Homo sapiens: one gene and its partner. The protein of the gene in region 1 purifies or fractionates together with the protein of each later gene. This does not show direct contact. Each region holds a gene or a part of one and is shown on either strand. Other genes may lie near its edges. The genes, in order: CLCN4 and TMEM9.

The links.
Region 2: the proteins of CLCN4 (region 1) and TMEM9 purify together in Homo sapiens (co-immunoprecipitation; 3 studies listed by BioGRID and IntAct, with this or other methods). This does not show direct contact.

The regions. Positions count from the first base shown.
Region 1 is NC_000023.11:10,149,370-10,165,404, reverse strand, and holds the start of CLCN4 (H(+)/Cl(-) exchange transporter 4), read right to left. Parts: upstream 8,431-16,035; 5' UTR 8,305-8,430; intron 7,117-8,304; 5' UTR 6,854-7,116; intron 1-6,853. UniProt on the Homo sapiens protein: Strongly outwardly rectifying, electrogenic H(+)/Cl(-)exchanger which mediates the exchange of chloride ions against protons.
Region 2 is NC_000001.11:201,136,575-201,144,487, forward strand, and holds part of TMEM9 (proton-transporting V-type ATPase complex assembly regulator TMEM9 isoform a precursor), read right to left. Parts: intron 7,378-7,913; coding exon 7,246-7,377; intron 1-7,245. UniProt on the Homo sapiens protein: Transmembrane protein that binds to and facilitates the assembly of lysosomal proton-transporting V-type ATPase (v-ATPase), resulting in enhanced lysosomal acidification and trafficking.

The DNA of each region.
Region 1 (16,035 bases):
TTCATGACCCTGCTGTTCCCATGTGTCGTCCCCAGGGCAGGTCAAGGGCCTGACCCCAGCCTTCCAGGACTCTCCTCTTCTGCAGCTTCAAGAGGGGTTCAAGTCCCCTCTGTGAGGAAGGCTCCGGTCTCACATCTACTTTCAACCCAGCCAACAGCAGGCTCTCTGTTGAATACGAGGGGGCTGAGTGCTCAGGGCTGAGGGAATAGCCAGTGCAAAGGCCCTGGGGCAGGGCAGGACCACGTCAAGAACAGTGTGAAGATGGCAAGCCAGCAGGCAGGGGCTTCCATGAACCCCCGATTGCAGGCCACTGCATCCCGCAGAAGCGCACGTGACAGGCGGTGCAGGGCGACCAGGGCCACTTGGAGAAGGCAACAAGGGAACAAGTGTGGGGGTTGACCCTCCAGCCACAGAGAACAGCCAATTCAGAGACTCAGTGGCAGGAACAAATGTGCTGGGCCCGAGGACAGCAAGCAAGCTGTGTAGCCAGAATCACCGGAGCCACCGGCAGCCTGACAGCTTGGGAGACTTCAGCCACGACAAGAAGCGGGAAAGAGAGCTTTTCAGGTGTCATGTGGGAATGTGCATGGCCATTTCCTCTGCTGTCCCTGGGAGGCCACCGCCCATCAAAGGTGATGCTGCGACTGAGCCGGATGCATGAGGACACGTCTGCAGCCTCCATGTCCTGCCCTGTAGTTCACACTACCCTCCCACGCCAGGCTTCTTTGATCACCAAGGGCCCACTCTGGCACCTAGGACAACATTGCTGCTAAAGAGGTTAGCTCCTCAGTCCAACTCACCTGGTCACCCTGGCCACTCCCCATCTGGCCTCCAGCCTCGCCTCCTAGCCTCCTTGCTGGCTGCCCTGCTTTCTTTCTCACCCACCTCTGACTCTGCTCCTGACAGCAGCCAGTCCTTTTAACCCAGTCTCAACATGTCACTCCCCGACACAGGAGCATCCAGTGGCTTTCCATCACACTGAGGACAATCCAGGGTTGACACCACAACTGCCAGTTCCAGGATGGCCTGCCCCCTGCGCCCCTCTGAGCACCTGTCCCCACCCCTACTCTCTGGGTAGCTCTACTTTGCACACGCCGATCTCCCTGCTTTCCGCAAACGCTTCCTGTCCTGCCCTGCCTCAGGGCCTTTGCACTGGCTGTTCCCTCAGCCCTGAGCACTCAGCCCACCGTGCTCAAGTGGCTCTCTCTCCATTCGGATCTCTGCTCAAGTGCGACCCCTCAGAGAGGCCTTCTTGCCCTCCCTGACCAGCGTTTGGAGTCCAGTGCTGTGCATCCTTTGCTGTCCATCCTTTCACTCAACACACAGCCTATCCAACAGCTACTTCCTCTTCCCTCAGCTCAAATCAGTCCCGTGAGGGCAGGAACCTTGTCCATTTGGTCCTAACATGTATCCCACTGCCTAGACTTGTAGGACTCAACCAACTGGGGGCAATACTGACCCCCAGGGGACATTTGGCCATGTCTAGAGACATTTTTTGTTATTACAACTGGGAGATGGGGTGCCACTGGCATCTAGTGGATGGTGGCCAGGGATGCGGCTCAATACCCTACATTGCCCAGAACAGCCCCCCATAAAAATGAATCATCTGGACCCTAACGTCCACAGTGTCAAGGTTGAGAAACCCTGGCCTAGACGCACAGACCCAAGGAATATTTGCTGAATGAAGAAGTAATTAAGGGGCCGGGAGCAGTGGCTCAAGCCTATAATCCCAGCACTTTGGGAGGCCGAGGCGGGCACATCCCCTGAGGTCAGGAGTTCGAGACCAGCCTGGATAACATGGTGAAACTCGTCTCTACTAAAAATACAAAAATTAGCCAGGCGTGGTGGTGCGTGCCTGTAATCCCAGCTACAAGGAGGCTGAGGCAGGAGAATCACTTGAACCTGGGAGATGAAGGTTGCAGTGAGCCGAGATCAAGCCACTGCACTCCGGCCTGGGCAACAAAGAGAGATTCCATCTCAAAAAAAAAAAGAAAAGAAATGAAAGTCATTTAAAAAAATACTTATCACAAAAAAAAAAAAATTCCTGCACATAAAAAAGCCACCCACTGAAAATGTGGTTAAACAAAGGTCTTGTTACCAAGGGAAAGTGTGTATGGGGGAAGGGATAGGAGGGGGGACTGTCCCCACACACCTCTTCCCCCAGGTTGGTAGAAGAGATGCGTCATCACACTAAACCCCTTTGGTCTGCTACTGCAAGGCTGACAGGTGGAGAGGAGGCAGGTAAGGCGAGGACCTCTGGGGCAAAGTGGCTGGGGCCTCTGGCCCATGTGATGGGGGCACCTGGAGCACAGGTTAAGCCCTGGGCTTCACCCCCAGACCTATTCAGTCAGAATCCCCAGTGTGTCTAAGGGTTTACATTTCTTTTCTTTTTTTCTTAATTTTTTATTATGAACATTTTCAATTACACAGAACATCATCCAGAAGAATCCAGTGAATAACACCAATCAGACTGAACAGTTGTTCACATTTGGCTCTATCTGCTTTATCTCTTTCTCTCTCTTCATTTAACTGAACCATTTAAAAGTAAATTATTGATCTTGAAGCCTGATCTTCAAAGTGTCATCTGGGGACTCCTTGGGCTCCCCAAGTCCCTTTAAGGGAGTCCATGATGTCAAAAACATTTCACAATATTCTGACATTGTTATTTGCCTTTTTCTAAGTTCATTCTCTCATGAGCATACAATGGAATTTTCCAGAGGCTACATGACATGCGATATTGAAACAGATTGAATGTAGAACCAAGTATGAGAATTCATCTGTCTCCTATTAAGTCATACATTAAAGAGATCTCAAGAAAACATCAAAAAAAGAAAAAAAGTAAATGACTGCTACCATGACACTTCATCTCTAAACACTTTAGTATACATCTCTAAACAAGAAGACTTTTCTACATAAACACATGTATTAGCTATCTATTGCTGCCTAACAACTTACCCCAAAGCATAGCAGCAGGACACAAACATCTATCATGTCACTGTTTCTGTGTCAGGAACCCTGGAGTGGCTTAGCTGGTGCCTCAGCTCAAGGTGTCTCACAGGGCTGCAAGCATCTCAAGACTCAACTGCGGCCAGGCGTGGTGGCTCATGCCTGTAATCCCAGCACTTTGGGAGGCCAAGGTGGGCGGATCACCTGAGGTCAGGAGTTCGAGACCAGCCTGTCCAACATGGCAAAATCCCATCTCTACTAAAAATACAAAAATTAGCCAGCCGTGGTGGCGTGTCCCTGTATTCCTAGCTACTAGGGAGGCTGAAGCATGACAATCGCTTGAACCCAGGAGGCGGAGGTTGCAGTGAGCTGAGATCGCTACCACTGCACTGCAGCCTGGGTGACAGACCGAGACTCTGTCTCAAAAAAAAAAAAAAAAAAAAAAGACTCAACTGGGCCTGAAGGGTCTGCCTCCGAGCCCGCTCACACCCTCACACCGTCAGCGGGTCTCAGTTCTTCTCAGGCTGTTGGAATGGACCTCGGGTCCTCACCACGGCAGATGGACCCTTTTGTAGGGCTGATCACGACATGGCAGCTTCAGTGTAAGCAACCCAAGAGAGAAAACACACCCCAGGCAGAAGCCCCTTTACACCCTCATGGTGGAAGTGCCTCTCCCCCACCCCTTGCTAGACGTATTCATTGGAAGTTCATTACTTGGTCCAGACCAAACCCCAGGGGAGAGGGTGATGCCAAGTTGCAGCTGCCAGGGGTGGGGATCACTGCATCTGTCCGAGGGGCTGCCGAACACATCACAGACTGTCACATCTAATCAAAGCAGCAGCAGTCTCCTAGTGTCACCTAATAGCCAGTCACATCAAAGCATCTCCAGGCATCCCCAAAATGCCTGTTACACGTTTGTTTGGGCCGAATCCAATCGAGGGCCACAAGTGATATTTGGCTATTCCGTCTCTTAAGTCTCGTTTGATGGAGAATACCCCACCTCCCTTTTTAAAAATTTCTTTCATGATATTACCTTGTTGAAGAGACAAGGCCAGATGGCTCATACAGAGCACCAAGCCCACTGGAGGCACACAGGAGCGTGACAGGCCTGCCCTGGGATGTCCGTGGACTGAAGCCTGTGAGGACAGTGGCGTGGGGAGTGGATGGAGCCAGCTGCTCTCACCCTAGCCCTCTGCACAGTGGGTCTTCCTCACCGAAGGCCAACCTCCCCCACCAGGGCTTTCCTATCTCCCCCCAGGAGACCATTTTCATGGTGCCAGGAAAGATGAGACAGACAGAGAGAGAGAGAGAGAGAGAGAGAGAGAGAGAGAGAGCAAGCTGATGGCAACGGAAAGGGAACCCAGGGGAGGGACACATCAAAGTCCAAAGCCTGGGGCACAAGGAAATGTTTTCTGGCCATTCTAAGCACCCCACCACCACCACATACACACACATAGTAAACATGTCCCCCCCTTGCTATGCTGCTGCCACCCCCGCTTCCTGTCTCTTGGGAGTTTCCCAGCCTGCAGACCCTCTCACTTCCATCCGTCCCTCCCCAACAGCCAAGGAAGCAGAGTCAGCAAGCACGGTTGGCCCCACTTTACAGATCCGACAGCAGCTCTGCAGGGTGAAGTGATGCAGCCACGGTCACCCTCCTAGGTGTCAAAGCCAGATCTTTAGTCCTGGACTGAAGCTTAAAGCATGCGACCATGTCTGCCCAAGCGAGTGTCCGTGTCGCTGGTGGTGCGGGCCATTTGTGTTTGCCTCCTCCTAGCTGCATAGACATTACCACCCTCTCGTCCTCACCACGTCCCCCACCAGCACCAGATGTCGTGTCGTTTCATCCTCACAACACCTCCGAGTGGACACTGTTATTCTCATTTTTGCAGACAAGGAAATGGACTCTCAGCTGTTAGGTCTAACCCAGGGTTAGACTACGTCCAGGGACGTGCTCCAGGTCTGCTGAGCACGAAGCCCCGGCAGGTTTCCACACACGTTCATCTAGTGCTCTGTTTTTTTCCTCTTTCCCTAACACTCTCCTTTCTGCCAAGCTCGCCTCCCAGCTACAAATGGCATACAAACAGCTCCTCCCCTTTTCACAGAAGCTATTTCTGGAAATTCACAGCATAAAAACGCCTTCACATTGTGTTTTCCAATATATGTGATATTAAGAAAGGGAATCAGATTTCTGATCAAGGGCTTGGCATCAAACCAATCATAAGAAAATGAATTCTTGGAGCCCGAAGAAGAATATTTCGAGATCATCTCAATCAGTGGTTCTCAACAGGGGGCAAGGGAGCCCTCAGGGGACATTTGGCAATGTCTGGCAACATTTTTGATTGTCACAACTGGGGGCTGGGAGGGGGAAGTGCTACTAGCATCTAGTAGGTGGAGGTCGGAGATTCTGCTAAACATCCTACAATGCACAGGACAGCCTCACCACAAGGAGTTATCTGGCCCCAAATGCCAGTAGTGCCAAGGTTGAGACACCCTGACCTAAATCCCTTTGTTACTTTGAGGACGAGATAGTCGAGGCCCAAAGACACTAAATGACATATCCAAGGCTGCACAGTCACAAAGCCAAAAGTGGAATCTAGGTCTGTATTAGATCCACCTCTATCATCTGCTTTGCTCTATCTAGGGTTGGGCTGGAGGAGAAGGGAGGGCGGGGACCCGGGGATCTTAATTTGTGTAACCAAACTGAACCAAAGGAAGAAAATTGCAATAAACAAGTTACTAAATTACTGCAGCAACACATCTGGGTGTCCCAAATTCTGAAAGAAATGCCTCCTTCAATTATTGATGGAAATAGCATTGCTTTACAGGCCCCCCAACGTTGCTGGTTGGTCAAATTATTCATGATGTGAGTTCCAATACAGTTTAGTGACAACAAAGCTTCCAGAAGGGTCAGGTTTTAGAGGGGAAAATAATGCCACATTCTCCCCCTAAGGGTGCCCCCACACGTCCTGGCTGTAGTTTCTTCCTGACCCCGAGAAAGGCATGTAAACGCTCTAGAAACAGTCCATTAAAATCCCCCACCCACTGTCATGCTAGAACTGAAGTCACCTGACCCCTCCATCTGGCGCTGTCATCAAGCCTCTCCATTCAGCAAGCGAATTATCAGCGAGAGAATTAACAAGAACTCTGGGAATTCTTAGGTTTTGGTGTTATCTCCACCCCCACTCTCTGCTAAAGATCATTTGGTTCTTAGAGATGTAGCTGTCTCTTACGCTCACATGTTATCTTTGGAAGCTGCAATTTATTTTTATTGTATTGGATACCGTTCTTTTTTAATCTACTTAAAACACCTGGAAGGAAAAAAAAAATACGTTTCTGACGTATGCCCTGTAAATGCTGGAACCTTGCAAAATAATGCAAAGCAATTTAGATTGCACATCTGGCTCTTAAATTGCTAACCAAGAAGTTTCCACTCCCCAGCCCGCTTTTGCTTTGAAAGAAATGAGGCTAATTACTGAGGACAAAGGCCTGTAATTAGTAAACATGTCGTTATTTAAGAAGCAGAATGACACTAGGAAAACACTTGATAGTTACCTCTTAAAAGCCCCTCTGTCTACTTAGAATGCATGCAGTGTGGTCACTTCAGATTTTGTTCCCCCGCCGGAGCGGTTTTTTCCCTCCCCCGTCTTTCTGTCTGGCCCCTGCCCGCTTTCTCGGGGCGGGCACGCCAAGACCCAAGTCACGCGTGGGCCTGCCACGGGCCATCCCCGGCCGGGTGCATGCAGCTGCAGCAGGCAGCTGTGGGCAGCAGGCGCCGCAGCAGCCAGAGGCCCCACTTTGGGTTTCTGGGGGCGCAGCCGGGCTGCAGGCCCGCGGGCCGGGCTCCACCTGCAGCGTCCGCGCTGCCGGGGGCGCCGGGGAGGGCATCCAGGCGCCGCGCGCCCCTTACCTGCAGTGCCGCATCGCGCCCGCGGCCGCCCACCTGGACAGCATCCTCGAGCATCCTTTCTTCAGCGCGACGGCTGCGAGCGCCGTGACATCACCAGGAGGCGGGCCCCACGCTGCCACGTGACGCCCTCGGGGCGAGGCAGGGAGGTGTGCGCGGGGTGGGGGGAAGACCCTGGAAGTCCCGGGAGGTGAGGGTCGATGGCCAGAAACCCTCGCGCTGGCCGCCCCTCAGGCGTTTCGCTTGATGTGTGCAGCTTGCCTGGCCTTTCGCGAAGAATTATGAAAAACAACACACAGGAGGAGAAATCCAAATTATTACAGGCTCCAAGCGAGTAATAGGATTTCAAAAGAATTAGCAATAAAGGGATTACAGTGAAAGGAAATACAATTTCATGTTTTATTTTAAAACTAGTATTTATCAAATGCAGTGGAGAAATAAACATTTTGTGCAAATCAAAATGACACAAAATATAGCATGGACATACTTTGCCTAGAGTTTCTATGTTTCAAGCCGTATATCGAGTATTATACCAAACACTTTAGTTCAAAGCAATTCATTATGGAACATTATACTAATTGCACGGATGAATAATGCTTTAATTACTCTGAATAGCTGCATTCCAATATTAATTTGTATTTGCCAAAGGAAAAAATGGTGACACCACGTATTTCTACTACTTACTTAAATATGTGATGATTTAAAATAAAGCACTGCTACGTGAGCATGGTTGTATTTGTGTCTCTGTTTTCTTACATCTTCTGGCAAGGCATTTAATCTCTGAGACATGACTTAATTCACAATAACTCATTATTTCACATTTTCTAATCTTTATCACATTCTGAAGAAGTGAGTCATTTTACTATCACAGAAAATATGTACAATGTCAACATTTCTCATTCACAACTGAAACAGCCTTGCCTAGAAAGACTTTAGAAAATTACAACTGTGATAATTTTGTAAATTTGAAATAGCGTATTTCAAACTTAAGCAGTGCACATATAAACTTTTCTTTTGCCAAAATACACAAGCGTTTTTGAAATGTAAAAGGACAAAAGCAAAGACTGCTTTTATTTGTATTCCAATTGCAAATAGATTCATTTACTTTCACTTGAGTTAAAAATCACAATTTTAACATTCCCTTTGCTCACAGCCCTGAAGGAGACATGAAATAGATTGTTTTACAAGCAGGCTAGAGTTAAGTTTACTTGCAGTTTATTCCATCAGCTTTCGTGTCCTTCTATATTTAACCCTGGCCCTTATACCGTGATTCCCTCCAAATTAACCAAATTTCTGTTCAGAAGGTTAATCTCTAATTTGGGGATAAATACAGCCCTTGACTCTCACAGCGATCAATTATTTTCAACACCAGATTTTAAAAATCAACAAAGTCGCAGTGTACTTTACTAGGTCACTCCTCTCAAATTTGTTTTTCTGAGTGATAAGCAGCTTACCTTCCGCTTTCAGATTCTGAGATAAAGTTAAAACGCTACCGAAATCTCCTGCTCCTTTGGGTTGAGGGTCTAATGGAGGCAGAAACTGACAAGCTCATTTTCCTGCCAGAGGCAAATGTCGATTTCAGCCCGGAGGGCCCCGGAGGCCGGCTGGGAGCATCACGTGCTCGGCCCAGCCACTCAGCCCTGCCCAGCCAGCCTGGTCACCTCTTGGCTCCGGAGCCCCGCCGTGCCAGTGTCATTCGCCTCCTACCCCCGGAGCATTCGTGTCCAGAGAAAACCCGGCGTCCCGGAGACAGGACGCCCCACCCTCAGGGGCTGGGCTGCACGGAATTCTGTGACCGGATTTTCCAGCATCAATGGGAGGTGGTGGGTATACAAAATGCCCTGCAGCCTGAAGAGGATGGTAGCACGGTGCAGACAGCCTTGCTCCGTATTCCGGCTTGGCTGAAATGACGAAATACAGGCAACCTTCTTCATCCTGGAGCAGTTTTTTTGCAGTAGGTTAGTTTCACCTTCTCTTTTTTCTAGGTGATTGCTCAATTGTAAAAAACATTGCAGCAAACCGGCAATTCAGACAAGGCCCAGAACTGGGCCAAGCAATTCTCAACAGAATGAGAGAGCTGTCTGAACACCCTCCACCCTCGCCTTTCAAATTGTCATTTTAGCCAAGATTAAAAAACAAAACCAAAAAAAGCAAAAACCAATACCACCCATGGGAATGTAAGTTGAGCAATCTTTCTGGTGGTCTGTTTAGCATTTTTCCTACCAAATGCCTTACAGATACACAGTTTCGCCAATTACTCCGGGCCCTACAGCTGTTGGTATCATGTGCTCCAGCAACTTGATGTCCAAGAATTTGTCCTGGGGTGTGGGGAGTGGGGGTGGGGGGAAGAACGGTGTGCAAACCCCTGACTAGGGAAAGTTTGCTGCAATATTACTTATGATCTCAAAGCACTGGAAACAAGTTAAATCTCCAAAAACAGGGGATGTTTTAAATTATAAGCCATCTGTGCAGTGGAAGAATTAAAACTAATACGGTGGTACACACGGATGGAAAAAGACATGTGCAGCGGATTAAATGGGAAAAAAAATGGAAGCTTCAAAGCATTATGTGCTGAGTGATCCGTCGTTTCTATGTAGGTGTAATATATTTATATCTACACATATACCTTTGCGAACACAGAAAACTATTAGGAAATGAATTCACTAAAGTATCAAACATGGTATCTCACTGGTTAGTGGGATTAAGGGTGTTTTAAATTTTTCTTCTTTTAAGCTTAGAGATATCGTCTAATTTTTCCACAGTGAATATGTATTGCTTTTATAGCAACAAAAAAATTGTTTTCTTAAAAGCACCATATAGACATGATTATGGAATAAACAAACAGTTTTGGCTAATTTTTTAATGCAGATTTCATTACTTGAAGATCCTGAATTCTTAACCACAAAGTCCCGAGGGAACAATCCCTAGCCATCCTAGATTATTCTGCTCATGAAGATCTTTAGGAAAGAAAGTGCCATTCAGGGGCCGTTGTTAATATTTAACCATCTGTATGTCCAGTTTTAATTTCTCTTCCATTTAAACCTACTTCTTTTTACTTTGCTCTGTGTGGAGATAGAAAGCTGGTTATTACCATCCTTCATGAAAAGATTCTTTCAATAGTTACGGAATAATAACCTTTGAGTTTTTTGTTCATTCGAGACAGGGTCTCACCCTGTCTCCCAGGCTGGAGTGCAGTGGCACGATCATGGCTCACTGCAACCTCAAATTCCTGGGCTCAAGCAATCCTCCTGCCTCAGCCTCCCAAGTAACTGGGACTACAGGCTCTTTCCATTGTCTTCACAGATTTCTCTTTCCTATCCCTTTGAATCTTCTACATTTTTTCTCTTATCTGCCAGTTTTCTACAGATGTCATACAAGGTTTAGAACAGCGGTTCTTAATGGGGTGATGTTGCTCCCTTTCCCCCAGGGGACATTTTTGGCAGCCACAACTGAAGTGGGAGGAGCCGTGTGCTCCTGGCATTGAGTGGGTAGAGGCCAGGGCTGCTGCTGAACATCCTACAGTGCACAGGACAGCTCCCTCTCCACTCCTACCTCCCGGGACAATGAACATTTCGGCCCAAAATATCAGTACAATAGTGCTGAAGTCGAGAAACCCTGGTTTGAATTACTGATGGAGTATAATTTGATGCCCAAGATGTTCCATTTCCCAGCCATTTTCAAGAGTTCCCCATTGTATGATGTGCTGGAAGCTCTCTTCATTATAAATCCCTTAAAGGTAGTACTCCCAGCATGTGGGACGTGTCATTGCCCACCTGTGTGTGCACCACAAACCACCTCTGAAAAGAGACATCGGGAACTGCTAAGGGTGTTATCTCTAGGGAGGAAAACTGTGTGGCTTGGCACAGAGGTGGATGGGAAATTTTCATAGATTTGGATGCACTGTATATTTTTAAAACAGACATTTTCCCACCACTAAATTGTTAAAACTCACTATTCAATTATTCTATAAATGGTGGGTTTTACAAAACCTAGAGGTGAGGACCCTATTGCCTCTTTGTGTCCAAGCCCCCATATATATGTGTGTGTGTTTGTATATATATTATATATTATACATATATATTTTATATATATATATATATATATATTTTTTTTTTTAGACAGTCTTGCTTTGTCGCCCAGGCTACAGTGGTGCAATCTCAACTCACTACAACCTCCGCCTCCCGGGTTCAAGCGTTTCTTGTGCCTCAGTCTCCTGAGTAGGTGGGATTACAGGCGCCCACCACCACACCTGGCTAATTTTTGTATTTTTAGTAGAGATGGGGTTTCACTATGTTGCCCAGGATGGTCTCGAACTCCTGATCTCAACTGATCCGCCCGCCTCAGCACATGCACCCTGTAGAGAGTGCCTTCCTCTGCAGCATGTCATCTGATTCTCGCAGCAGCTGGTTAACAGGAGTAGGGCAGATCTGCTGTGCACCCATTTTGCAGACAGGCTCAGAGACAGCCCTGACATCAGCCTCCTGTTCTGATGGAGGCTGGAGCACCCTGGGGTCAGGCTAGGTCTTCTCTGGCCAGGACCCCAGCTTCTTCCCCAGGCGCCTCTGACCATCCCCTCCACCCTTCTTGGAGCCACAGCTTCCTGGGACCCTCTGGACAGCACTCACCAGCTTAGACCCAAATTATTTACTCGCATTAACCCCTGAGCTCCTGAGCTCCTGAGCTCCTGGAAGGACAGAGGGGAGCTGCATTTACCTGCTCTTTGAAAGCCCAGCATATAGCACTGTCTCTGGGATACAGTTTGTTACACCAGAACTAAAATTTTCCCAAATGTTCTCAGCCAACCGCTTTAATCATACACCATCTTGAAGTATTACATGGCTGTATTGCAGTATTACTGCCTGTGCTATTTTGCCAAGCTTCTGCAAGCCCCACTTTTCCCTTCTGTAAAACAAGGAGAAGGAGGAAGAGTAATAGTATCCACCACTTGTAGCTGAGTGAGACGTAAGTGAGAGATCTGGAAAGAGCACAAGCAGTGCCTTATTATTAGAATTTGAGACACAAGAAAAGTTGTGTACCCCTAAATACAGTGATCAAGATACCCTCTTGTATTTTGAACCAAGTGAAAAAAGTCAGTAAAGACCCTACAACCGAAACACACACGCACAGAAACTATGTATAATGCTCCCCGTGGCCCAATTTATTTGCACCCACATAAACCTCCCCTTCAGATACCTCCTGGCCAAGTAACCCCTCGCTGATTGGAATTGACTATGCTCCCTTGCCCAACACTGAAGGGGAGTGAAACAAACCACAACAGCCTGTCCTTATTTAAAATGTTCATATCTTGTACATTGTAATTTTCTGCACTAATTTTGATTTTATAAATTATATATGTACATATATATGTACATATATATGTGTGTGTGTATATATATACATATATATGTGTGTGTGTATATACATATATATATATTTTTTTTTTTTTTTTTGAGATGGGGTTTTGCTCTCGTCGCCCAGGCTGGAGTGCAGTGGCATGATCTTGCCTCACTGCAACCTCCATCTCCCAGGTTCAAACAATTCTCCTGCCTCAGCCTCCTGAGTAGCTGGGATTACAGGTGCCTACCACCACACCTGGCTAATTTTTGTATTTTTAGTAGAGACGGGGTTTTGCCATGTTGGCCAGGCTGGTCTCAAACTCCCGACCTCAGGTGATCCACCCACCTCAGCCTCCCAAAGTGGTGGGATTACAGGCGTGAGTCACCGTGCCTGGCCAGTATATTATCTTGATTACTGATTTTTGTGGTGCCCTCTTACGTTTTGCACCCAAGGTAAGTGCCTCCCTCACCTCCTCCAAATTCCAGCCCTGAGTATCTGGTAAATTATTCTATAAATGGGGGATCTTATAAAACCTGGAGGTGAAGACCCTATTTCATCTATCTTTGTATCCTGAACTCCTTTACACCTGAATACACCATCTCCAATGAATGAATGAATGAATGAATGAGTTGCTTCCATACCTAGCTGGGGGCTATGCACATGGCCAGCATCCTAAAAGATTTGGGGAATAAGTAAGTGACATGGGATATAAGAATATGCAATCCAGCCTTTTCTAGGCATTCTGGGCTGTGTTCACAGATCTCAGCAGACATCCAAAAGCTGCAAACTCAGACCCCATTGCCCTGACATCGATCCAAAGTGACAGCCTTGACTGACGTGACAAACAACAGCTTTGAAATCCCTCTGCTTTTGCAGTGGAGTGGAGTTGTTGTCAAGGACATTGTCTGTGCTGGGAAGCCTGAGAAAAGAGCCCGTGTAGCTCTAAGGCCTAAGAGAAGTGTTGCCATCCCTTAAAAAAACCATATGGTGCTTTTCCTCTCTGACAATAAGAACTGTGGAGCTGCCACTGTCTCCTTTTTCTCTGTGAGTGCCAGGAGACTCAGATGTTGCCAAGGCAATTCAGTAGGCCTGTCTCCTCCAGTAGGCATATGCACAGTGGCATGTCAGTCATCGTTAAATAACCCAGCTCTCCAAGGGTGGGGCATGGGGAGGGAGGCTTGATTTGTAGCTTGTGCTGATTCTCCTGGTGTAAATTCTCCTGCCATGCCTTGCTTCGAACTACTGAATGGGGAGCTGGAAACTGATGCACGATAGCCATCATTGGACAGCATCTCCACCACGCACAGACAGAAGTCAGTTATCTTATTGCACCTGGACAGTGAACAGCTTTTCTCACCCAGGACCTGGCCTCTGAGAAAAGCTGCTCCTTGTCCAGGTGCCTTGGGTTGGAAATGGGATTTTTCTAGAATTGCACTGCTCTATGGTAGCCACTAGACACAGTTACTATTTACATGAAAATGAATTTAACTTAAAAGTTCCAATTCAGTCCCTCAGTCACACTAGCCACATGTCAGATGCTCAAGAGCTACATGTGGCTTGTCACTACGGTATTTTAGCGCAGATATAAAACAATTCCATCATTGCAGATAATTCTATTGGATGATGCAGTAAAATATTTCTTTTAAACGAACTCCATTGCAATAAAACAATTTGTGTTTATTACTCATGGGATTCTGCCTGTAATTGCAGGGTAGAAACAGCAATCTGGCCAGAGCGTCTGTTAGTGGGAACAATGGAAAGGCACAGATTCCAGAAGGCCGTGTGCCTCTAGCCACAGGTCTCAGACAAGATGCTTCCAAATGCCACTGAATGTGCAGCCTCTGCCGTTGGACTTCACCAGGAGCCTGGGAATCTTCTAAGAGGGGAGCGTCTGATCACTTGTTCCAAAGCAAAACTTGAGATGCATGCCGGAGTACATACATACTGAATACAGGAACCGGCCCTTCAAAGCTCAGTGCTTCTAGGGTGGGCTGGAGAATGACCTCCCCAAAGATGTTCACCCCCTTATTCCCAGGACCTGTGAAGATGTTGCTTTACGTGACAAAAGAGATTTTGCAGATGTGATTAGATTAGGGATCCTAAGATCGTGGGGAGATGATCCTGGGTGGCCCCAGTGGGCCCAGTGTCGTCACAAGGATCATTATAAAAGGGAGGCAGGAGGGTCAGAGTCAGAGAAGATTGGCAATGGAAGCAGAGATCAGAGAGGGAGATTTGAAGCTGCTACACTGCTGGCCTTGAAGATGGAGGATAGGGCCATAAGCGAACAAATGCAAGTGGCCTCTAGAAGCTGGAAGAGGCCAGGAAACAGAATCTCTCCACTAGCCTATGGAAGGAACACAGCCCTGCTGGCACTTGATTTTAGCCCATTCACACCCAGTTTAGACTTCTACCCTCCAGAAAAGGAAAAGGATGAATATGTGTTGTTTTAAGCCGCTAAGTACAGCAGCCATTGGAAACGAACAGAGCCTTGGCTCATTGATTCATCCGATTCCTATTTACGGAGCCCTCCGTCTGCACCAGGCAGAATGCAAGGCCCGAGGGTCAGCCACGCTCGGGAGTGACTGTGTCCCTCTGCTGAGTCCCTCTTACAGTCCATGGGGAAGACAGTCATGAAACAGGTCTTCCCAATCAAGAGTGGGGAATCCCTGATGAGAGAAGTGTTGAGTGATGTGGAAAAATACCGCTAGGGGTTGAATTATGTACTCCCAAATTCATATGTTGAAGTCTCAACTCCCCAGTACCTCAGAATGTGACTATATTTGGAGATAAGTTCTTTAAAGAAGTGGTTATGTTTTCACATCAGGCCGCTAGGGTGGGGCCCTAGTCCCATCTGACTGGTGTCCCTATGAAAAAAAAAAAAGGAGACCCCAGGGTCATGCATGCAGAGTGATGACCACGTGAGGAGGCAGCAAGCTGAGGGGAGAGGCCTCGGGAAACCAGCCTGCCAGTGCCTTCATCTTGAACTTCCAGCCTCCAGTGAGAAAATCAATGTCTGTTGTCGAAGCCACCCAGTCTGTGGGACTTGGTTACGGCAGGCCTAGCGAACTCATACACGTACATAAAGCAGAGGGGCCAAATTTCTTCAGGGATGGAGACCACTTCCGGCCTCCTTGAGAAAGTCATGGTTAAGCTATCCAAGGACAAGTGGGAGTTAGCTCAAGTTGGGGACTGTGGAAGAGTGGACCAGAGAGAAGACAGGGAGTGCCCATAGGTAGCCAGGAGGGAAAGGCCTTCTTTCTGCTACAGCAACTGCAACAAGTAAAATTTGGCCACAGTAGCATTGCTCAAAGTTATTTTTGCCTTTTGTTTGTTTGTTTGTTTTTGAGACAGAGTTTCACTCTGTTGCCCAAGCTGCAGTGCAGTGGCATGATTTCAGCTCACTGCAACCTCCATCTCCAGGGTTCAAGTGATTCTCCTGCCTCAGCCTCCCAGGTGGCTGGGATTACAGGCGCCCACCACCACGCCCGGCTACATTTTTGTATTTTAATGGAGACAGGGTTTCACCATGTTGGTCAGGCTGGTCTCAAACTCCCGATCTCAGGTGATCCACCTGCCTTGGCCTCCCAAACTGCTGGGATTACAGGTGTTAGCCACCATTCCCAGGCTAAAAGGTTTTTTGTTTGTTTGTTTTGAGACATCCAGAGTAATGAGTGTCTTTTGTATGCGAAAGAGATGATGGTAGCTGAGGGCCCTAGGTAGCCTCAGGATAGGGGCTGGTCACCAGTCACCAGAAAGACCAAGGCAAGATAACAGATTGGGGACTTTTAACCCCACCTCCTTGACCTCCGGGGAGGGGAGAGGGGCTGAAGCTTGAGTTTATCACCAGT
Region 2 (7,913 bases), on another chromosome or scaffold:
GCTGAGGACAGCTCAGCTTCCTCCCTATCTGACTCTGCTGATCCCCTTCCCCTTTGCTTTCAGAACTGTTGCTGCCGTCAAAAGCATCCTCCCCTAATTACCACTTCTCTGCCTCTGAAGCTCCGGAGCCTCTGCATTTCCTGCAGGACCTGAACCTGATCTTTGGAGAGAATTAGAGCTGAGGGCCAGGCCCACACCCCCGTGGGGATTTCCTCCCTAGCTTTCCCTGCCTCTCATCTCCTGCCACACATCTCTTAAGGGATTAGTGCACTTCTCTAAGCCCAGAGCCGCCCAGTAAATGCAACTTTGCTTCTAATGCCCCAAGCTGGCACGGCTTCTGTCACCATGCAGCTGCTACGCTGGGGCGAAGGGGGGTGGTGAGGTGAGGGTAGGGTGGACAGAGAACAAGCTGGCAGTGAGGAGGCTGGGAGAGGGTTCATCATCATCCTCTCAGAGCTCTGAGGACTTCATCTTGTGAGTGCTCCTCTCTAAGCTGCGTTAGAGATGGACACTGCCTTCTGGGAGCCTCCCGCCCAGGTCCTGAGGAAGGCTTCCTGTGCCAGGCTAGGTGAGGCTCAGGCAACGCCTGAAAGGCACGTGTGGCCATGTCAGGCAGGGGGCATACTGAGCTTGGAATTAGGACCCCTGGGTTCTGTTCCTGGGCTGGGGATCACCTGCCCCTTCCAGCCTCAGCCTCCCCTAGGCTCGCGTCCCAGGTGGAACTACAGATCCACAGCGGGGGCTGGGAAGGAGACATGGCCTCAGTCACTTATGAGGCTATGTGTCCCTGAACAAGTTACTTTATTTCTCCAAGCTTCAATTTAATGTAGTAAATGTAGTCATTGAGACTTTTTTCTGCTATACGGTCATTAGGAATTATAGTTACCAAATTATCTAACACACACACACACACACACACACACACACACACACACACACACAGAGTGAAAAGAAGTTTCATAAAACAATACTTAGTGTAATGCATTCTGATATTCTTTGCTCTGTTCCATTCCATTTTTTTAAAAATCCTGGTCATGACTCACAGAATTCATTTCATGACCTAATGGCTTGCTTGAAATACACTGGTTTAAGATTAGTAGATGGGTATGGCAAAGTTAAATAACACACATATAAAGCACTTACTATCCTGGCTGTCACAGAGCTAGGGCTCAAGAAATGTTTGGTTTCTTTCTTCCCTAGGAGCGATGACTAATATCAGAGCCTAGCTCTGGAAGCCACTAGGCAGTAAGGCTGGCGGCTGGCTGCCAGGAGAAAGCCTGTGAAAACTGCCATGGCTGCTGCCCCTCCTTCCAGTTCCATGCCTTCCCTGTTCACTGTGCTGACTGAGCTGGCCACAGTGCTAAGACCAAGCCTCCACCCAGTCCTGCCTCAGTGTGGCCGTCTACATGAGGTGGGCACTAAAGACCCATCTGGGAAGCTATTGGCCCACCGGGACTTGGCTCTGGGGGCTGGATTGCCTTCTCTTCTTCTTTCCATTCCCAATCTCATCCTTTCTGGGACCATCTTTCTCATGACAGGGCTCCAGTGTGTGTGTGGGGTGGGGTGCTACGCTTGGAAGGGTGGGGCAGCTTTAGCCCTGCCCTCCTTCCACTGCTCTGTATCTCAGGGGAGCGTCTTGAGAAGGGGAAGCCAGGGAGAGCCCAGAGCACAGCATTAAGGGAACATGCTGAAATTCACCACATTACCACAGTATCATTTGTTTTCCCTTCATGTAAAGTCTTAACAAACAGCTCCTAAGTGGGGGAAAGCTGCCACTGAGAGGCTGAGTTTCCATCGCTAATAGTCTGATTAAAAGGTATTAAAGACTCCACATCTGTTTCAGAGACAGCCCAGAGTGGGGCCTCATCCTTGCTTGCTCTGCAGCAAGTATGGTGGGTGGAAGTGGGAGAAATGCCACCAGTTCCTCCCCTCTCCCTCTGAGGCTGGGCCTCCGGTTAACTCGGGAGCAGAAGGGCAGTTAGGAGGGGAGGCGGGTGGAGCCCCTCCCAATCAGAAAAAGAGCTTGGACATGGATGGATTCCCAGGAGGTCCCCAGGGGGACCAGACCAGTGTGACTATGACAAGTGCCACTATGTGCCAGGCGCTCTGCTAGGCACTTTACACAGATTATTCCCAGGCTTACAACACTGGCAAATGGGTAAAACCATCCCCTATTGTAGCTGCAGAAACTGAGGCTCTGAAAGATGAATCATCTTGCTGCCCAAGGCTGCATGGCTGTTTAGTGGCCAAGTCGGAATTTGAACCCATGTACGTATATCTCTTATCCTAGGACCCAGCTGGATCCTTCTTTGGCTGGTTTCTCCTAAGAGGGAGCCAGCATGGACAACCAAAGAGACAGGCTGGTATATTTCCCCACAGCTAGAGCAAGAACAGAGCACTTCTAAAGGAACCAATGCTCAGGACATCAAGCGAGGCCCTCTTCTCCACACTGGAAGGACCCAAGTAACTGTGTGGATAAGCCCCAGCTGATCAAACTAGCCCTGAGCCCTTCAGGCCGTCCCAGATGAAACCCTCTTCAGTCTGCCCAGAAGCACTGGTTCTGAGCTGGCACTGGACTTGGCCAAAGCCTGATGACAAGGAGACAGGGAGAGTGAGAACCCCACCTCAGGCGGCTCTCCTCTCTCTGGCTGCTCCTCCTCCCTCCTCCCCAATCCCAGGCACAGGAGCATGACCAGGTGGTCTCATCACTTACCAGCCACTCAGCAAAGCATGGTCCTAGTGCAAAGCCCTTCAGCAAGAGGACTATACAGCCTCTCTGAGTTTTCCATGTTTGACCCAAGTCCTTGCTGCTGTTGCTGAGTCCCACTGCACCTCTGCTGCGAGGCTCTCCCTGACCCCTGCACGCTGCGGCTAGGGCCACCTTCCTATGACACACCAACTCATGCTGTTTCCCTGCCCAAAAACCCCAGCTGGGACCCACCTGCTCACAAATAAAACCCTGCTGGGCCTGACATTCAAGGGCACTCCCAGCCTCACCTCCCCCCTTACCCCCCAGCCCAGCCTCTGGCCACACTGGTCCATGCATCCTCTGTCTACCTGCGGTGATCCTCACTCAGGCCCTTGTGCACGCTGCCCCTCAGGCTTCCCTCCAGCAATCATGATGCTACTTAAGTATTAACACCTGATTGAAATAGCGCATTCTTAAGGACGAGCAAACACTTGTAAAGCTTCCATACACACGATCGCAACAGTTATGCTGAGGTAAACATGATTATGTGTATTCCAGACTTAGAAAACTAAACCAGGAGGTTAGCACCAAGGATAGTAAATGGCAGGGCTCGGCCCCTCCCAGGACTGTGATTAACCACAATGCTGTGCTGCCCCACTGGAGGCTCTAGAAGCGTCTGTTGAACCGCACATCTTTCTATTCTGCCCTCAGGGGAGGAGGCCGACTGGATTGCCCTCATCAGTGTGTCTGTTCCGTGTTTCACTGTCAGCTTCCCAGGGCTGGGGTCCTCAGAACACAGCTGCCACCCATGTGCAGACAGGAGGGGAGACTGCTCCTCAGTGGCCCGAGTCTTCTCCCCGGTGCCTGCATGTTCCAGTTCCCATCATCATCATCACCTTTCCTTGATTTCCCTGTATACTCTCTCCCAAAGGGGGCCCAGAACTCTACCCACTGCCCCAGCAGGGTGAGCACTTTGAAGACCTCTCCAGAGCTTGGGCCCATGCTGTGAGCAGCGACATCCCCAGCCTCAGAGAAACCATGTGTCTCTCTTCAAAGAGGGCCCAACCTGCACATCTAAAACAGCTCTGTTTGCCGTTTCTGCCCCAGCAAACATGCTTGCTTCCTCCTTTCAAAGGACGTCTGAGCCCAGGGATTATGCCTAATGCTGCTGGAATCCCAGGGGAGGCAGCGCCCAGCAATCAGGGCCTACTGAGGCTCTGCCAGCGCTTTCAAAGGGAACATGACAAGCTTTCATCTCCCTCCATGAACGGGGCTGAGGCTGAGGGGGAGGCCTCCTCTTCCTCTTCCAGTTCTTTACCCCCTGGGCAGGAGAGCTCCTGGTCACAGGAATTGGGGAGAAGGAACCAAGGGGTCCCTAACCCTGAAAAAATGCCCTGACCTCCAGATCTCACCCCTAACTGGGTCCCAGACTTCTGGGGCGTAGGGCCTGAAAGCTCCTGGAGCCTAGACAGAATTTTCCTTCTAAAGTCATCGAGTTGTACAGGCCTAGGCGAACTTTCAAGGAACCCAAGAGGCCATGTCCTGACTTTGTTCCTCTTGGGGTGAAACCCAGAGACATGGCTACAGCCTAGGTGCTGCTGCCGCTCAGCTGAATGCCTGCCCCCCAGCCCCATGTTTCCCCACATCCCTTTCCTCTGTGCACTGAGAGGGGCAGTAGATTATCCCTCGTCGTCCAGGACTAGGGCCCCCAGTCTCTGTAAAGACAAGCTCCTTGGGTTCTGTCCAGCCCCAATGCCCTGTTCATCCTCCCTGCAGTTCAGCGGTCACTCTCCCAACCACCCTGAGTGGGCACTGAAAATCCCCCTCTGCCAGGAAGCCTTCCTTCCCAGACTAACACAACGAGAAGGGTAACTTTCCGACCCCTTGTCTAGTAAAGAGGGGCCTCCCAAGGCACCTGACTTTTCAGCTGACCACCCGTCTTACGAAGCCAGATCTTACTGCCAGCCTTTACGTTTCCTGCTGCTTTACCTGCTTTTGGCCGTCTTGGGGCTTAAACCCCCGAGGGCAGACATAAGGTCTGTGCAAATCTCAACACTGTGCCACCTGCAGGTTTTCTGAATACACTGAGAAAAGCAGAGTTGCTGAACCACAGACATCTGTGACCTGGAGACCACACAGAATCACAGGAGGTGAGGGGATAGAGAGATGATGCCAAAGAACGGGACTGGGGGCACTTCCTTACCCAGCCAAGGGCACCCAATGAGATCTACCTGCCCCAGGCCACAACCAGCGAGAGTTGGCTGCACCCTAGGTCAGGGTATCAAAGAGATTAAACACAACTTTTTATGAGCTTTTAGAACCTCAGGTGAGAGGTGAGGGCGTGTCATCCTGTCCATCCCAGGGCCGCAACTTCCCCTACAGGAGGGAGCATGGCTCGCCAGCTTCTATGTGCTGCAGCCTATCACAGCCTACTGTCCTCCCAGGCAGTCCTGCCACAGTTACCAAATCTAGCCCTTCTTCCTCCCAAGGCCCCCTCATACAAACAGGCTTCAAATGAGGAGCACTCCAGGTCTCCTGGGGGTAAGAGAGACCTGGGTTCATACCCAGGGACGGCAAGCTGCTCTCCCCAAGCTGCCCTCCCTCTGGCTCCCTGGCTAGGATGGCAGGAGACATAACAAGGCCATGCCCCAGAGCCATGCATTCCACGGAAATCATTGGGCTGCATCTCTCAATTACTACCCCAGCCAGGACTGCAATTACCACATTACCCCTAATCGCTGAGTGTTTATTAGCGATGCTCCTCCCCTATCAGAGCTGCTATTACTCTACATTAATAACCAGGTAGGCACACGAGGTTTCCTCTTGAACACAGACCACCCAACTGCCAGTGCCACCACCTCCCAGGCCCTAGCTCCAATGGGGCGAGGCTCATCCCCTCTGCTCCACCTTCGGCCAAACTCATGTCAGCAGGAGGCTGGGGGCAAACTGGGAGCAGTCCAGGCATGTGCGCAGGGTGGGGCAACACAGCCCTCGAGAGCAGCCAGGCTCCCTCCCTGATCTGCCCTTCTCTTCGCTGTTCATGCTGGCCCAGACCCACATCACCCAGGCAGCTTCACACTTAGACTTGAGCCCCTGGGTCCTCTTTTTGGTGAGGAACTGGCTCATGGTCTTGCAAGGGAGCCCAGCCCACCTACCCCATAGTTAGACCACGCTGTCTACAGGAAGACTCCCAGCCTCCTCCTCATATTGTGTTAAATCTCTCTGTCCCTGGATGAAGCCAAGCTGTCTTCTACAAACTTCTGAAGGCAGCTATCATGCGTCTCCTTTAGTTGTTTTTCTTTTCCTTTAAGCTAAATGACTCTCAGTTTCTTCAACTAATTCTCTGAGGCCTAGCTGAGGCGCTTCCCGACTAGATATTCCTTATGCATACGCATGAGTTCACTCAGGGCATCCCTCCATCAGTCAATAAACAGGAGTATCTTCCAGCAGCAAGGCCCTGGGGACAGAGCTCAGAGTGGAAGCAGCAGCCAACCCCGCCTGCCTTGGCTCCACGCCTCTAAGCAGCCCGCTCTGCTGTCTCATGCACCCAGCTAGCTGGTACATGAGCGCATAAAGGGGGAGCCCGAGGCACACGGGGCTGTGCAGTCCTCACTCAGGCAAGATTCCCCTAGACCACCTGGGGAGTGCAGGGCTCATCACAACTCTGCTCAGCATGGAGGTACACCACGTCTCACTCCCACGAAGAGCCCTTCACCTGAGCCCTCCTGTCCCCCCGGGTTTCCTCGCCATGGTGTCCACAACTTTTTAGTATGAGGATGAATGGGAAGACGGTGACAGCGCTTGTTAACTGCACTGGGCCTGGTCCAAGCCCTGCCAGCTCCCCACCATTGCATGAACTCCTGGAGGCCTTGCAGGCTGTCTGGGGTCAGTGGTTCCCCACTTTCCTTGTCAGATAAAGCCAAACCCCCTTAGCTTGACATTTGGGACTTTTAATAATGTGACCTAAATCTACTGGCCAGCTCTCTTTGCCACTATTCAAACATCTCTACCCTATCCTTGCAACGCTCAAAATTCCTCACACATACTTGGCAATGTCCCCTGCCCGGCACCACTGTCTCATTCCTCTTCCGCTCTTGAAATCCTACATTTCTCCCCAGACCCTGGAGCTCTGGTTTGCATTGAGCAAGTGTTCAACAGATGTTTGTGGAATCACTGGACAAACAAATTAACCTGCTGCCGTCCAGTCCACCAGCAGCTTGTCACCAATGTCTGAGCACACGGGGGATATCATGTGTATCTATGTGTGACTGGCTCTGGCTGGCTGCGCCCCCTCTGCCTGGAAGCACAGTACAGCAGGATGACATGGCTCCCCCGGCTTGTACATGGAGACTGCTTGATGCCCGGTGTCCTGCTTCATCTGGAAGGGCAAAGAGCAGGTCCCTGCTGAGTCTGGGTGATGTGTACGACACTGACCAGAAGAGCAACTTGAAGCATTTTGGGGAGGTGGGACCTGGACCTAGGTGACGCTCCTCTGGGTTTTGCCCTGGGGACGCACATGCAGGGACCCAGGGCCTGGGCACTCAAAGCCCTCTTACCTCATTCTCCTCCTCATTGTGCAGTTGCTCAGTATATGCATCCGGCTTTCGGATCAGAGGGTCCACCAGCATCAGGAAGGCCATGTAGAGCAACAGGGCACCCACCACGGACAGGTAGATGACAATGATGACCTGAGGAAGAGACCGGCGTGCCTATGAACCATTATCTGAGGCCAGGGCTAGAAATCCGTTGCTAGTCTTGGGCCATCTGTGTCCGGCTGGCAGTGACTCCTCAAGTGGTGCACTAAGAAAGGACTTGGAGGCAACGTGGGCTCAGAGGGAAAGCATGCCCAGAAAGGAAAGGGAGGGCCCTACTCCACAGAGGAAGCACTCTGTCCTAACTTGAGGGAGTCTGCACAGCAGGCATCACGACAGCAGGCAGATGACAGAGGAAGAAGTCTGGAGCCTGATGCCGAGAGGCTCCCGGGGTAGAGATGGGAACACAAGGGCCTCCCTGGCTGTAGAAGAGTTCATGATGAAGGGTGGAAAGCAATCAGAAACTAAGAGCAAGGAAGAACAGGCTGTGGAGAGGCTGGAAAGCTGGGGCCAGGAAAAGTAAACCTGGGCTGGTGGGCTCATTGCTCCTGTGGAGAGCAAGACGGATGGGGCGCGCTGGCCCACTCATGGCATGCCCCTGAGCAGAGTGGCTAGGGCTGGTAAGAAGGTGT